Regions from separate parts of the Homo sapiens genome. Here region 2 is linked to region 1. The links come from fine-mapping of genetic effects on gene expression. Tissue or cell type: whole blood. Region 1 holds a variant in brackets; the other region holds the start of a gene. All regions are shown on one strand. Distances are between the middles of the regions.

Region 1 (7,916 bases):
CAGAGAAAGTGGCAGGGTCAATTGTACTTGAACTGTTTACCAATCATTACAAATTGTCCATGCCACTCCCCCTGCTACAGAGGGGCATGTGCCTGCAATTGTTGATCCCATATAACAATCTGAGGAGACAGCTTTCACCACTGACTATGTACATAAATATGGTATGCAGTGTCATACCCTCATTTTGGAAGCATTTTCCTGTGCCAATTCATGAGTAAACCTGATGGCACTGTTACTTGGCTCCCTACAGGCTATGGAACTGAGTCCTGCAGAATTGCAGTCACTGATGATTCAACTCACCGACTTGGTCTTTACCATCCTGCAATTAGTATTTTCATTGCTCTTTTGTGATTCAAGAGACAACTCAGCTTCTGAGGACTGGTTCAATCCACTCAAGTCTGCTGCAGAAATCAGTGATATGTATATTAATTACCCACATCTTGATGTGGCTACACATATGTCTAAGATAGCAGTGTATAACTGGTGCCATAGAACCCTGATCAGAATACTCTCGACTAAGGACAGATGTTGGGCAACCATTCATAGTCCAAAATTATCTTGTTGCAAGTGAAACACAAGTGACAACACTGGTCACAATTAAGAACTTCCTTAGAGACTGACGCCATGCAAATTCTTATCCCTGAAGTAACTGATGAAATACTTAAGTTTAGAAATGCATGAGAGTCTCTTGAAGACTGTAGGATCTGAATGGTTTCCTTATGCCAAAGTAACTCGACATCTGGATGCTTCAAAATTAAATAGCATTCCTACATCTTGCTTCTGCAGCATTTTATCATGTAGAGACCAGCTCAACCATGCTGAATCACAGATAGGGGAATCCAATACCAGGTGATATTCTAGAAACATGACTGAAGGATGCATACAAAAAGCATCAGGAAAGATCAGGTCAATCAACATTCACTCAACAATGAGATTCTCAATTCAGGCAGAATAACTCACGAGATGGTTCAGCACTGGGATCCAAAGGAGAAGGAACAAATCCCCACCTCTATGACAGGAGAGTTTCTAATCAGCCATAAGAATAAAGGAGCTTGTAAAATAGACTTTACTAACTAGACTTTGTCTATCACATGTTTACCTTCCCACCACTTGCCATCCCCAGAGACTTATGGTCTGGTTCACTTGTCTGCCTCTTGAATTTTACCACTCTTTGTTCTAGATGCTACATACTGTCTAGCAAGGCCTTTATACTTCCTTATGGCTTCCACAGTGTAGACTCCTCTCAGGCTTACACTAAGTTATAGGTGATTCAGTGTGTCCTGAAGAGGGACTGGCAGATCTACACTGAAAGCCACCCCCACCCCCAACACACTGCAGTGGTCTTCATTACCAAGAAATGGAAACCCCTGGACACCAGTGATTTTTAAACACAGGCCTTTACCCAAAAAATAGTCATCTGGATGCAAGCTGCACTAAATGCCTAGGCAAAGCTGAAGGAGCCAAACATACTGCAAGTTTCAAAGTGTCCTGAGAACAGTACACTAGGTAGCACAAAAGCACCCTGGAGCCCCCTGAATTGTGCTGCCCATTTCAGCTCCTCTAATATGGGAGATGATTTATTCTAATTTTTCACAATTTCTTCTGGTATTCTCACCCTGGGTACTAGTTATTTTACCATCTGGTCTGGTTTCCTGCCTAGTGTTGGCTCATCTAGGGAGTTCTTTGTCTTACCTATCTAGCCTAAACACGTGTCTAAAAAAAAAAAAACAAAAAAAACAAAGTTGGCCCTTCCTCCTGAGTTCAGGAGAAACAGTTCCCACTGGGGGTTATCAATTGTCTAGAGTCTATGCATCTACTATGGAATATATATACTATGGAGTATATATAGTTTTATCTATTCAGAGAGACCAGGGAGGATCCCAACACAGCCCCCTCAACTGGTCAAGGGAGAGGAGATACCAGATATCCATCTTCCTACCACTGAGATGCTTGGAATGGTACTTTTCTTTCTACTGGTCCATCTTTCTTTATACCTGGGGAATATGTAGATGCATTTTCTGTATAAATTTAATGGTTTAATGGTGTTTATCAACAACCATGGAGAATAATCAGGGTAACTGTTCTTAGTGTAACACCAGATTGGTGCAAAAGTAATTGTTGTTTTTTGTCATTACTTTTAATGGCCTAATAAGTTATCTAGGGGAAGTTGTCTGCCTATCAACTACATGTTACTGTATCTGGAAACCTTAAAACCCCAGGAAGGAGAAAGCATACAGGGTCCTATAAGAACTGCCTGGACTAGTAGAAGGTGCAAGCTAGTGTTCCTTAATGTTTTCCAGCATCTTTGAAAGAGCTAAAGATTCAAATTTGTCATTAGTCATTCTGTTCAGTAGTGATTTTATTTCTTGCTGAAGTCACCATCTGCATATTTGTTGTGCATTTAGCGAGGTTTTTTTTTTTTAAAGAAAAGCCACTACATAAATTAAAAGTGCCCTAGACTGAACCTGTGGGTGTACACCAGCAAATTCCACTGCACTCTTGTGCAGCAGAGACTGCCAATGAGCTGCTATCTTCTCTGCTGTGTCCCTGTGAGGAGAAGAGCCATTTCTTACTGTCTCCTGTCTCCCAAGAGGAGGAGGAAGTAAAAGCTGAAAAGCAACAGGGATGAAGTCAGTGGCAAGACTGACTGGCACCACTGGCCAGACCTGGGGTTAAAAATTAACCTCTGCTCTAACCACATGCGTTATCTATAGATTTCAGACATAGTATAGAGAAACATTCTCCTAGAAGCATTGATCCTGCTCACCGCCCCCCCACCCCAACAAGTCACGTACCCCTTGCTTGCTCAATCCCTTTCACGTGGACCCCTTAGAGTTGTAAGCCCTTAAAAAGGGCCAGGAACTGCTTGGTGAGGAGCTCAGTTCTGGAGACACAAGTCTGCTGATACTTCCAGCCAAATAAAGCCTCTTCCTTCTTTAACCCGGTATCTGAGGGATTTTGTCTGCACTTATCCTGCTACACTCTGGCAATACCTTCATATTGTGTAATTTGCTGTGCTTTAATCACTTATCCTCAACATTAAGATAAGAATTGGAGGAGTGTAAGAGGCCTAAAAATGCTTCTATGTTACAGTAGAAGTTGTATGTGTTAAGACGTACTGACAGGGAAGTCAAAGACATGCTAAGCCTCCTACTTTTTTTAAACTGATGTATTTTTTCATGCATAAGAAAAAATGAA[T/C]ATAGTGTTGGTTGTGAAAACCATACTTAGAAAACATCCTCTACTGTGGCCCTCAAGCCACCCTCTAAGGTATTTAACATTGACATAGAAGCTGACTCTCTGCATCTTTGCTCTGTGTCAGCCTTCAGCATCTGTTCCCCAACACTCAGGTCTTCCCGCTCCTGAACACTTTCTGCTGTTCATCTGCTTCTAGGCCTATTTTCCCTTTAGCTTAACCCATTCTTCCCAAAAACTGCTTCCGTCCCGGACTTGTACCCTATATATTCCTTTAGGACTCTTCTAGTCTATCACCACTGGTTCTCTCTCCAACATGAAACCCAGATGTTTTTCTCTACTTGCTTCCTTCATAAACATTTCATCCTCCTTTGCCCTGCTCTATGCCCAGATGTGCCAATTGTTTATGAACTGCATCACATGTGGTCCTTTGTCCTCTTGTTTCCAGTGGGGTTGGACAACAGGAGGCATTTAAGAGGTTGGTGGGTAAATAGTCCCCCATTCCCTCATAGCCATAGCACCTCACTTCTTCCAGCAGCTGTATCCTAGGTGGTGAAGTCCTTCCCACAACACACACTTTACCTGGCACTATTTACCCTATGCCTTCCCACTGTACTCACATCTAATAAGGGCTTCTATCTATACTAGCCTCTCAGTCTTTTCACATCCTTCTGACTTGGGTAACCTACTCCCACCTTTAAAACTTCTTCCTGAAGCCTCTGCAGAATGTTCTTCCTTCTTGGGCCCAACCATCATGGCCTGATTCAGGAAAACGGGGAATACTAGCTCTTGAACTCCCCACCAGCTTAGTGAATACTTGGTCCAGCCCATATCAGTTGACTTTTCTCCCTAATCTTGCCTTCCCCTCCATTTCACAGGCAGTCAATTCTTATAGACACCTGACACCCCAAACGTCATCTCAATAACTTCGAGAGCCAAAGCTGTGAGAAGTCCTACATCAAAAAGAATATGATCCCATTTGGTAGCAGCTCTTCTGCTTTCCCTCTTTTTATAAACTCAGGGAAAGCAGAGTTGAAGCACAAAAGCAGAACAGAGAGCATAAGTAAGATGGTAGGGTTTACACTTGTGACTTGTAGTATTTCTAGAGAAATAACATTGTCAACCTGGATTTTTATAGTACTATTCAAACTTATCCCTTCCATTTTAAGTATATCATTTTTAGCATAAATTCATGGGATACTGGAAATCAATGAGAGTTAGTGTAGTTGAAAGTCAAGACAAGATTACCTGAGAATGTCATTACCAATTTTATCGTTTCAATTCAGAAATAAGCTTCTATTAATCTAGTAGCCTTAATATACATCAAGGCATCAAGTCTAAGAAGTTTAGCTGTATACTACTAGAATGGAAGATTTGATCTACCCCCCTTCACAAAGTGTTTTAATAGTGTTTCATTTTGCCTGCCACGATAAACAGTTGTGTTTTTTTCTGGTAAAGCTGTGAGCAGCTGAAGTCACCTAACTTCTTTTCCTGTCTCACTTTATCCCCTCACCCTTGCTGTCCCGTTTACCCCTTTCCCCAATACACAGAAGCACAGAAGTAGTTTCAGGATCAACTTTCTAGGGAATCCGGGTCAGTAATCAAAAGCACTGAAATCCCTTTTTTAAGCAATGACAAATGTGGTACTTTTAGTGGTAACACACCCGACTGCCTGACTGCTACATCCCAACAATACACAACCTCTACAGAGTGCTGGGCAAGCATGATCCTGGGCACCTAGGATACAGCACTGAACAGTAAGTCCCTGGCCTCCCACAATTTGCATTCAAATAGAGACAGGTGAGTATTATGAAGAAAACAAAGCAGGATATGGAGTAGGCTTGTGATGAAGGAAGGAAGCAGTCCCATTTTCAATAAGGTTGCCAAGGAAGAAGCATCTTTGATTTTCTCTCAACTGCCATTAACCAAGATTGCTGCATGACCATGTGTCACACATTTACTTCCCTTTGTTTTACCTGACCCACTCAGAGCTTTCATGCATGCCTCTGGTATTTGTGGAGTCTGCATGTGTGGTTTAAATTTGACCATAAGAAACTTAGTGCCTTTTACCACTAATTTCATTAGAGTGTCAATTATGTAGACTACCACATACTGTAGTATGAGAAAGGTGGTTTGAGACCAAAGTGTAAGCTAGAGCTGTTACACAGAGGACTTAGGAGAATTTGCTTTTTGAAACGAAAGCTCAGGTTCTTAGGCTTTTATAGTGGTTTCCTTCCAGCATGTAATAGGGTCTTGTCTCATGTTGGTACCTAATTGTTTAACCACAGGGTCAACAGAATGTCCAACCCATTGAGGAAAGCCAGAAAACTGCTCCAGGTAATTTTCTGTTATTCTATAAAAAGCATGTGTACCTTTGAGAAGCAGCTTATTGTATTCAAAGTACTTTCTCATATGTTCTCTTGCTGCTATTTTATAGATTAGGTTACTGAGGGATTAAAAAAAGTCTCAAAAATGGACTCTCTGCAAGTAACTAGGCAGTTAAGTAAAAGGGGGACCTGACCCAAACCAAATGTTCTTTAAGTCCAAATATTCACACTTGCAGTTTTAAGTTGAAGTGACATATATAGAAGACTTCTTGAGGGTTCTGTCTCTCAGCTTTGGAGCCTCCTCCCTCTGTCTCTGTACAGGGGAGCTTCTTCCTTACCCCTTCTTTCTTGCCTATTAAACTCCCTGCACCTTAAAACTACTCCATGTGTGTCCATGTCATTTTTTCTAATTCAACTCAAGATGAAGAACCTGGTGTTCTCCACTCATAGGAACTGTACCATTTTGGTGCATTGGCTGAGACTTGCCCAGACATATCCAAACATGCCTTGTGCTGAGAAACACAATGTGCTTACCAGAGAAGTGGTAGCAACTAACCTCACTGCGGGAGGGAAAGGGGAAAACTCTGCTTCTAGACTGTAAAAATCTTGCACATTTCATGCAGAGAAAGAGTAAGAGGCTGCAGATAGAGAGAGAAGAGTTGTGCACCAGGATAGTTGAGGTTCTCTGCCAACACCCAGAATTGGTTGTCAGAGGCTACATCCGGTCCGGAGACCTTTGAATCACACCTGGGCATGCCCTGGCCAGAAATTCTCAGTTGCCTCAGGACTTTTCCCAGCCTTGCGTGATGGCAAGATCCCCCATGAAAATAAGCTAGTTCAAACATGGCCAACATTCCCAATACCCCATGGGTAAAGGGGGTTCTCCGTGTTCTCCCCAGCAAGCCTCACATCCATGACTTGAGTACAGCAGCCAAGGCTAAGCATATGTACTAGGCTAACAGACGCCCATTGATTTATTTGATTTAATATAGAGGTGAAGAGCATCTTGGAATGATAGAACAGATTTTGAGCTTGCTCCCATACTCACCACTCTGACAAATGCCCTGGAGTATATGTTGAAGCACTGGGACTCCTTCAACCTTGAAACTCTGAAGAAAAAGTGGCTTATTTTCTTTTGTGGCCATATCGGGCAGGCTCGGGGAAAATAGTTCCCAAAATTAAAGTAACTTTCAGGGAAGTCATCTAAGGGTCTCCCTTATTTGGCGCTCCTTAAAGTTCCCTTCTCATTGCAGGACCTTAGGCAAGTAAAGAGAAACTAAGGCTGATCTTTTGATGAACCTGTTAGATACATGGAAGCTTTCCAAAATTTAACTCAGGTATTTGATCTCACATGGAGGGAAGGTTATGTTGCTGCAAAGTCAAACCCTCATTTTAGCTAAAATAGGCAGTTCCGCAAGCAGAAGAAAATTTTGGAGATAAGCAATATGTCTCCTATAGTAGGCCAGAAGGGAAAAGAGAAAATAGGGAAGGCAAAGAAATAGGGGAAACACCATTCCCAACAGGAAGAGAGGTATTACCTCTTAACCCTTAGTAGAACTCCTTTCTATGGTGTTTTTCCTTCTCTTGTGGTTTAAAATTGCATCTTTTCTTTGTGTACTTTCAACTTGGGAAAAGTTAATTCTCCAAACCTTAAAATGTTTGGCTTAAAGTTGAACTAAGGGGAAGGGAACCCAGAAGCCTAATATGCTGGCAGCAAAAGGGTAAAAATTTCTTACTACTCAGCTGGATTTTGGATTCTCTCCCTGCACATACCAGTAAAAGTGATAATAAGGATCACTGTTTATGTTTTCTGTAAATGTATAATTAATGATAAAGGATTTATAAGGTTGGTCTTAAGCTGTAGACAATCTGGTGTGCTTTGCATGTCTTTCTGCATGGTCCTGTCAAAGAAAGGGTATCTTAGTCAGGGTGCAGGCCCATGCCAGAGATGGTGAATTCTTCTTCAATGGGTTTAATTGTGTGATGTCCTTGTCCTTGGTTCAGAGGCCCCACCTCCTTGTACTATGTTTCTAGCCTGCAAGCAGCCCTCCCACTCTTGTTATGCTCTGAACTTGCCCAGACATGTCCAAACATGCCTTGTGCTGTAGCAGAGGGACCACTCCCACCCCCTCCCTCCCTTATGAATTGCACATTTACCTTTTTTGGAAAAGTTTAAGTCTTAGCCAACTGGGATGACTTTAGATTGTGCAGTCCAACCCTAGCTAATAGGGGAAGGACACAGGGATAGGGACTGCATTAGGGATAAAAACTCCTCTCCTTTGTTCAGTGTGCTCTTGCAATCATGGCTGAGACAAGCAGCACCCTTCTGCAGAAGTAAATTGCCTTGCTGAGAAAACCTTTTGCCTGAGTGCTAGTTTCACTTTGCGACACTGAGCA
Region 2 (6,442 bases), 190 kb after region 1:
TTATATTGAGGACTATAAATATATGGCAAATACCTAAAAAATAGTAGTCTCTCTTTTGTCACATATTCAAGAGAAAGTACTTAAGAGGTAAAACCTAAGACACAACAGAAAAACCTAAGATACAACAATACAATTAATCTTGTAGTCTTATTCTGGCACTAACGATCACAATTCTGATTATAAATTTTTATGTACAGTGGACGTTATTATACCCATTCGATAAATATTTCTTGAACCCTGTGTGCTAGGCACTGGGCATAGAAAAAGGAAGACATATTTATAAAAATGATGAAATACCTTCATAAGAGCCAAGAACCTGTCCAAAATATTGACAGCCAGGACAAAAGTTTCAGTGCAAGATCCAAAAAAGTTGGCTAAACTCCTTAAATCTTCAACTTTGGCATTTCTCAATCCTGGACACAAAGTGTTATCATTCTGCAATAAAAACCAAGAACCAAGGTTTACAATTTTCTTAGAACCAGATGAAAAACACATACAGGTCCAAAGAATAAGGTTAATTTTTTCCCAAGAATAAGGTTAATTTTTTTCCCTCAATCTTCAAGAATATAGGTGGAAAGAGTGGTATCGCTTAACTAAAGCTATACACTTTATCATCTGTAAGACGTAAATCACTGCTTCTTAAAAATACGCATCATAAAAGAGCTTCAGCAATTCAATATAAGGTGAACTGTTGCAAGATTTCAGAGAGTTATAGCAAATATAATTCAATTCCCTTGGAATGGAGAGAAAGGGTTCTTTTGTTTGCTTTTCTAAAGTCATTTAAGATTCTACTATAAATATGTATTTCACAGGCAGAGGGTGTTTGCACAAATGAACTACTCAATTCACCCGGGGTCTCCCATCCTGAAGCTGCAGGCTGGAGTATGGGGGGCAGCGAGGAGGGTGCCACATTAAAAACAACAACAAAAAACCCCACTTCTCTAAAGTATCACTCTCATTCTTGCTAAGAAACAAAAGCATTAACCTGTAATAAGGTTTATCTTGGTACTCCAGAAAGAACAACTTTTAAGAAATTTTGCAGGCTTTAGTCATGATTCAACGGGGGCGGGGGGGTTACCTCCTCCAAGCCCCATCAGCTGCTTGAGCAAGTTATCTTTTCTGCCAACTTACCTCCGGGGTAGCCTCAATCAAACTCAGCCCTTTTTCTCGAGGTTGGAATCTCTCTTCTTGTTCCAGGTAGACGTTCAACAACCCGAGAAGTTGGACCCCTTCATGACCTGCCAAGTGCTCTGCCCCCAAATCCTTCATCTGCAGTAAAGACACCACACAGAGAATGTAATCTGGGGGTAAGAGGGGTGGGGAAGCGGGAGAAAGGGCTGAGGCCAGTACCTCCAGCAAGGGTCGCCCCAGCACACCCCGACAAGGAGCGGGTGAAGGGACCAGTCACGTCCGCCAGAGCCCCAGGGCAATCCCCACCACGGCCAGGGAGGTGTGGCAGGGGGAGGAGCCGTGGTCAGGTCCGCCGGCCAGCGCTGGGTAAGACCGGCCAGCCCTGGCCTCTTGGCGTTTCACAAACAGGAAACTGTCCGCGGGCGCCGGCGTCCCCTCGGTCTGCCCCACCTGAAGTCGCGCCAGGGAGGGCCTTCTGCCCAGGGGACTGCAGTGTGGCGAGCGACTGCAGCGGGTCCCGGGGATGGGGTGTTGCACAATAGGGGGGAGGGGAGGGAGAGTCTCGCGACTGAACAAAGAAGCGGAGGGAGGAGACTCCCGAGCCCCGCCCGCCCGGGGCGCCCAGCTGCAGAAGCCCCTCTCGGAGAGTCCCGCCCCCAGCTTTTCCCGTCCGCTGCTGCAGCGCCGATTCCGGACTTACCCGAGAGGCGGATACCCCCGTCCCAGGAGCCCTGGGGTGGCGCGGCACACCCGGCTACGGTCCGGGGAGAGAAGTCCAGTCCAGCCCGCCCGCCCCGCGCCCGTAGGGACAACACCCGTCCACCCACTGATGCCGGGGCCCCACAACTCTGCAGAGCCCCGGGGCTGTCAATTCGAGAAGCACCACGCCAGCAAGTCCCCGTGACAACACGAGCGGGGGCGGGGGGCACCGAGGCGGAGACTGCCCTTAACCTAGTCGCAACCTCCTTCCACCCCACGAGCATCTATCTGTCCATCGCGGGCGCCAGCTCCCCCCGGGGCTGGGGCTGAGGGCAGCACCCTGGTCGCTCCAGCGGATGAGGAGCAGGCAGCACCGAGGCACTCGCATGGTACCAACCTCCTCAAAGCCCACAGTCCCCACCACGAACAAAGAAACCCACGGCGGCCCTGGGCGGGTCCACTCACCGTGCCGGAGACGCGCCTCCACCCGCCCGCGGCCTCGCGGTCCGCACGGACTGGGCGCAGCGGGGGCTTCCAAACCTGTCTCGCAGGTCGGGGACCCACCGCCTCAGCGGTGCCCCCGGTCCGGCATCCGACCCTTCCTCCCAGGCACCGCCGCCTCGGCCTCACAGCCCCGGCTCCATCCCGCTCCCCGCGCGCCCACCCTCCGCCGCGGCGCAACGCCGGCCGCGGAAGACCAGCCCACCGCCGCACCCCCGCCGCCTCAGCGGAAACCTCCCCGAGCCCCTTGTTTTTGTTAAGAGTTTCGACGCCCCCAAGGGGGCGGGGCACGTGACTCCCCGCGGAGGGATCCTGCACTTCCTCCACGGACTTTAAAAAAGAGTCCCGCCCCTAAGCTGCCGTCTCGAGCCTCTCTCGCGGCCTCCCTAGCTCTCCTTGGCTTTGCCGAGCCAGTCCTCCCGCCTGGCGCTAGGGCGGAGAGCGGAATCTGGGCGTCGGGCTTATTCCGCGATTGATCTGCGTTGGGGAACGGGGGAAGACAGAGGGGCGGAAGGAGATCGTTTCTGGTCTCATTACGCCTTTTAAAGGTCCCCGATTTGTTTTGTTTTCGCTGTTTTGAAAAGTCCGCCCAAAGTAGCCGGCTCTCTGATTGGATGCGGGTGGGGCGATGGGCATGCTGAGGACCTGATTCACCCTCGAATCTGGATTGGCTAACTTATCAGTCTTGGAGCCCTCTGATTGGCTTTCTCCGTAGCCTGAGCCTCTCTCTGCCTTGGGGCCTTAGCAACTCCAGGGTCTGGATTGCGCATGCCTGGGTGTGCAGCGGAGAAGGTATTCAGTTACCTGCCCTGCGGGGCTGTGCCTTCTCGCCTGGCTGCCTCCGCCTTTCTTGGGGGAATGTCACGCTCGCGGCGCTTCTCCTAACAGCTAACCTTTGTGACAGCCTTTTCAGCCACGGGAGAGTTTTCTACATTCCTTCTTTATTTTGTCTTGGCGTTCCATTTTGCAATAACCCACCAAATTATTATAACATTGTCGGGGCGTTTACTAAAATATTCAATAAATGCTACAAGTTTGGGTATTTGCTTTAAAATTTTACAGTCCAAGAGAAAAAAAAATGGAGAAGAGAGGTGAAATAAGATAGGCAAAAAGTTGAGGGTCGAAGCTGGGTGATGGGTACTCGAGGCTGCATTACAGTATTCTTTCTAGTTCTGTGTCTTGGAATTTTTCCATAATTTAAAAAAATTCAGGAGGGACTGAAGGAGGGGCTTTTCAATAAAAACTTAGCACGCTGATGAGGGTACGTAAACATCTAATAATTACGGCGTACCTCCAGAGGTTGTAGTGCTGTTGTTTTAATGAAGACTCCCAGAGCTTCTTGGTCCTTGGTAACCCATAAATTATCATTTATTGTTCATTATAATTAGCGTTGTTATTATAGGCGACACGTCTCCCAGGACGGGACAAAAAGCAAACAAACCAGGTGCCTTAGGCCAGAGACACTTTCACACGGAATATCAATGGGGCATGTGGTTGACTGCCCTGGAACATTTATTTGTTTACTCTCTCCCTCCTAAATTAGAAAATACCATATTCGTGAGTTCTAATCTACATAATCAGATAGTCCCTGGGAAGAGATTTCTCCTTTCTGTTCTTCTATGTGTTTTCTGTGAATTATTTTGTTACTTGTGAAATATGGGAAGGCACACAACATAGCTTTGGCAGCGCTCTTCTTTGCGGAGCAGCTAAGGAATTTTAAAACTAGGTCCCTTTGCATATTAGCTCGGACTAAACACAGGCATCTGTTTGGAGCACAGAGCAACTGGGGGAAGGCAGCCCAAAAAGCTAACACTTATTTCAGAGAGGTGTGAGCTTGGTGAGGGTTTTGGAAAATAAGATAAAATTAGCACACCAGTTTTAAATGATTTACAGGCTACATAATTTTATCCAATGCTTGTTTTATCTTTTAAACATTAAGTGATAACTTTTATTTGACATAATCATCTTGCTGGAAATCTATGCTGATAAACATAATAGGAGCATGAAACTAACTTAGAGACTAGAGCTAAGATTAAAATTACAGAGATGACAGCTCATTGTACAGAGCATCAATAGGCTGAGTGGACAGGGCCCACAGACAGAAAGCAGCTCGACCAACTATCCACCATCAGAGAAATGAAGAGTTTGTGATCAAAGCATGAAGGAGACTGGGGATGTTTTTTTCAAGTAAGAAGGCAAAGGTAAAAAAGGAACATACGTTATTTTATAAGTGATGTGAAAGAGGAAATGCAAATTTATGTGGTAGAAGACTTTAAAAATAACAGACTATATAAAACAAAAAGGAAAAGATTTAGAAATTGTCCTTTGCTTAGGCTACATAATTTTATCCAATGCTTATCTGATCTTTTAAACATAAATAAGTGATAACTTTTATTTGACATAATCATCTTGCTGCTTAGCACTAAATGATATGAAGCTATACTAAATGTGTACTCTATATTTCATAACTGGTATTTTATGTGTCCTTTTACAGACAGCCTCTTGAATGATGTGAACAGTGATGGCTTTCTCTGAGAGTAAGACAAGAAAGCTTTGTAAATGGCGTTGAATTTCCTGCTCTTGGCAGGCCCTGCTCAGCACAGAAGAAAAGACTGATCAAGTTGTCCAAGATGGAGCCCTTTATCCACGTTAGTCCACTTATCTCTTTAAGATTAAAGGAAAGCAATCATTAAAAATACAGATCCAGTAATTATTAATACAGCATCCTCTTTTTTAAACACCTCATTTTAAGAATGATGATATTCTTAGGAAATGGGCTGGGGGATTATGTAGGTTTTCTCTGTTTACTTTGCAGAATTTTTTGTTTGTTAATATATCTTTTAAAAAAAAATTCTCCTCATTCTATTTGTCCTTATCACATTGGCTTACCTTGCCGGAGCTGAAAGTGTTATTTATGAAAAAGACATTATTCCCCTTAGGCTAATCAGGCTTTACCCATTAGCCTTTCCTGAGCTTTCTGGAAGGCAAATTTCCTGTATCATGCACACATACAAAATAAGGAAATCAGAAACTTGGCAGCCCCCAAGAACTTCCAGACAATTTAAGATACTTGGTTTTCTACAGCATGTGGTAGGGGTGCAGTGGGGTTGGGTGATACTGTCACCAATAACCCCATGAAAGCCTGATGTGCAGCCCATTGTCCTCAGTGACATGTGAGACTGAAACTAAAAGGTGCTCACAGAATGGGTAATAAGCAGGGAGTGCCCACACAGAAACACTGACTACATTCAGTGAATCCCTGACTCCTGACAAGTGTGCTGCAAACCTGCTCACACTTAAGCTTCTACCTTGAAAATAGGGCACTCTCATGGGACAGTTGCAGTGCTTCCCTAAATGACTTAGACTTCCCTGAACTTCATAAGGCATCAAAATTGCTACAATTTTCCAAATATCATCTTTCTCCTCAAAGATATGGTTTTTGACAATAAATCCTAGCTTTTTATTCAATCGAAATTTAGTGAATACACACTGAGTGCCAGGCATGCTACTAGGCACCAGGAATACAAAAATACATAAATAAAACAAGGCCCCAGCATATACCCTGGTATGTCTGAGGTGTAGGGCAAAAGCACTGGCCATGGATCAAACTGGCTTTGTGTCTCAGCTTTCCTACTCATTAGAAATGGTGCCTTGAATACCCTGAATAATTCCCATGGTCTTGAGCCTCAGCTTTCTAAACTGAGGAAAACAAAAAGCCAGAGGTAGTTGTGTCTGCTTCATATGTGATGACTGAATACAAACATTTGTGAAAGCAACTAGCTATATATTTCTAGGCTGCACCATGTTGTGACTTCATGAAGGGAAAGGAAGGGATCATCCCTAACCTCATCAAAGAAGTCTGGTGGAAAGCAGCCCTGAAAGGAAAGAACCTGAGGATAAGGATACGTAAAGCTGACATGAGGCCATACTCCCCCTCCCCGTCTACTCACTATTGCTGGGTCCCTGCCTGGGCTGTTTTCTGTCATTAGGCTGAGCACAGTGGTTCATACCTGGAATCCCGGCACTTTGGGAGGCTGAGGTGGGAGGATCACTTGAGCCCAGGAGTTCAAGACCAGCCTGGGCAACATAGCGAGACTTCATCTCTACAAAA

The links. PIP is the estimated chance that this variant, and not a neighbour inherited with it, causes the effect.
Region 2: it holds the start of CCNG2, and the variant in region 1 is fine-mapped to the expression of CCNG2 in whole blood (INTERVAL, PIP above 0.99).

What each region holds. Positions count from the first base shown.
Region 1 is chr4:77,342,308-77,350,223 of GRCh38, reverse strand. No RefSeq gene overlaps it. Among named protein-coding and RNA genes, the nearest start is that of CCNG2, 190 kb to the right of the region's middle. RefSeq lists an enhancer at 6,739-7,916. The variant T/C (reference allele first, on the strand shown) is at 3,199.
Region 2 is chr4:77,153,360-77,159,801 of GRCh38, reverse strand. CCNG2 (cyclin G2) reads right to left here and starts at 2,595. Exons shown (of 8, transcript NM_004354.3): 1 at 2,296-2,595; 2 at 1,132-1,269; 3 at 298-435. The coding sequence starts at 1,269. It overlaps LOC101928864 (a long non-coding RNA gene), which reads left to right and starts at 1,738. Exons shown (of 2, transcript XR_244659.5): 1 at 1,738-4,532; 2 at 4,826-5,048. RefSeq lists silencers at 2,287-2,396, 2,427-2,496, 2,917-3,036, 5,379-5,448.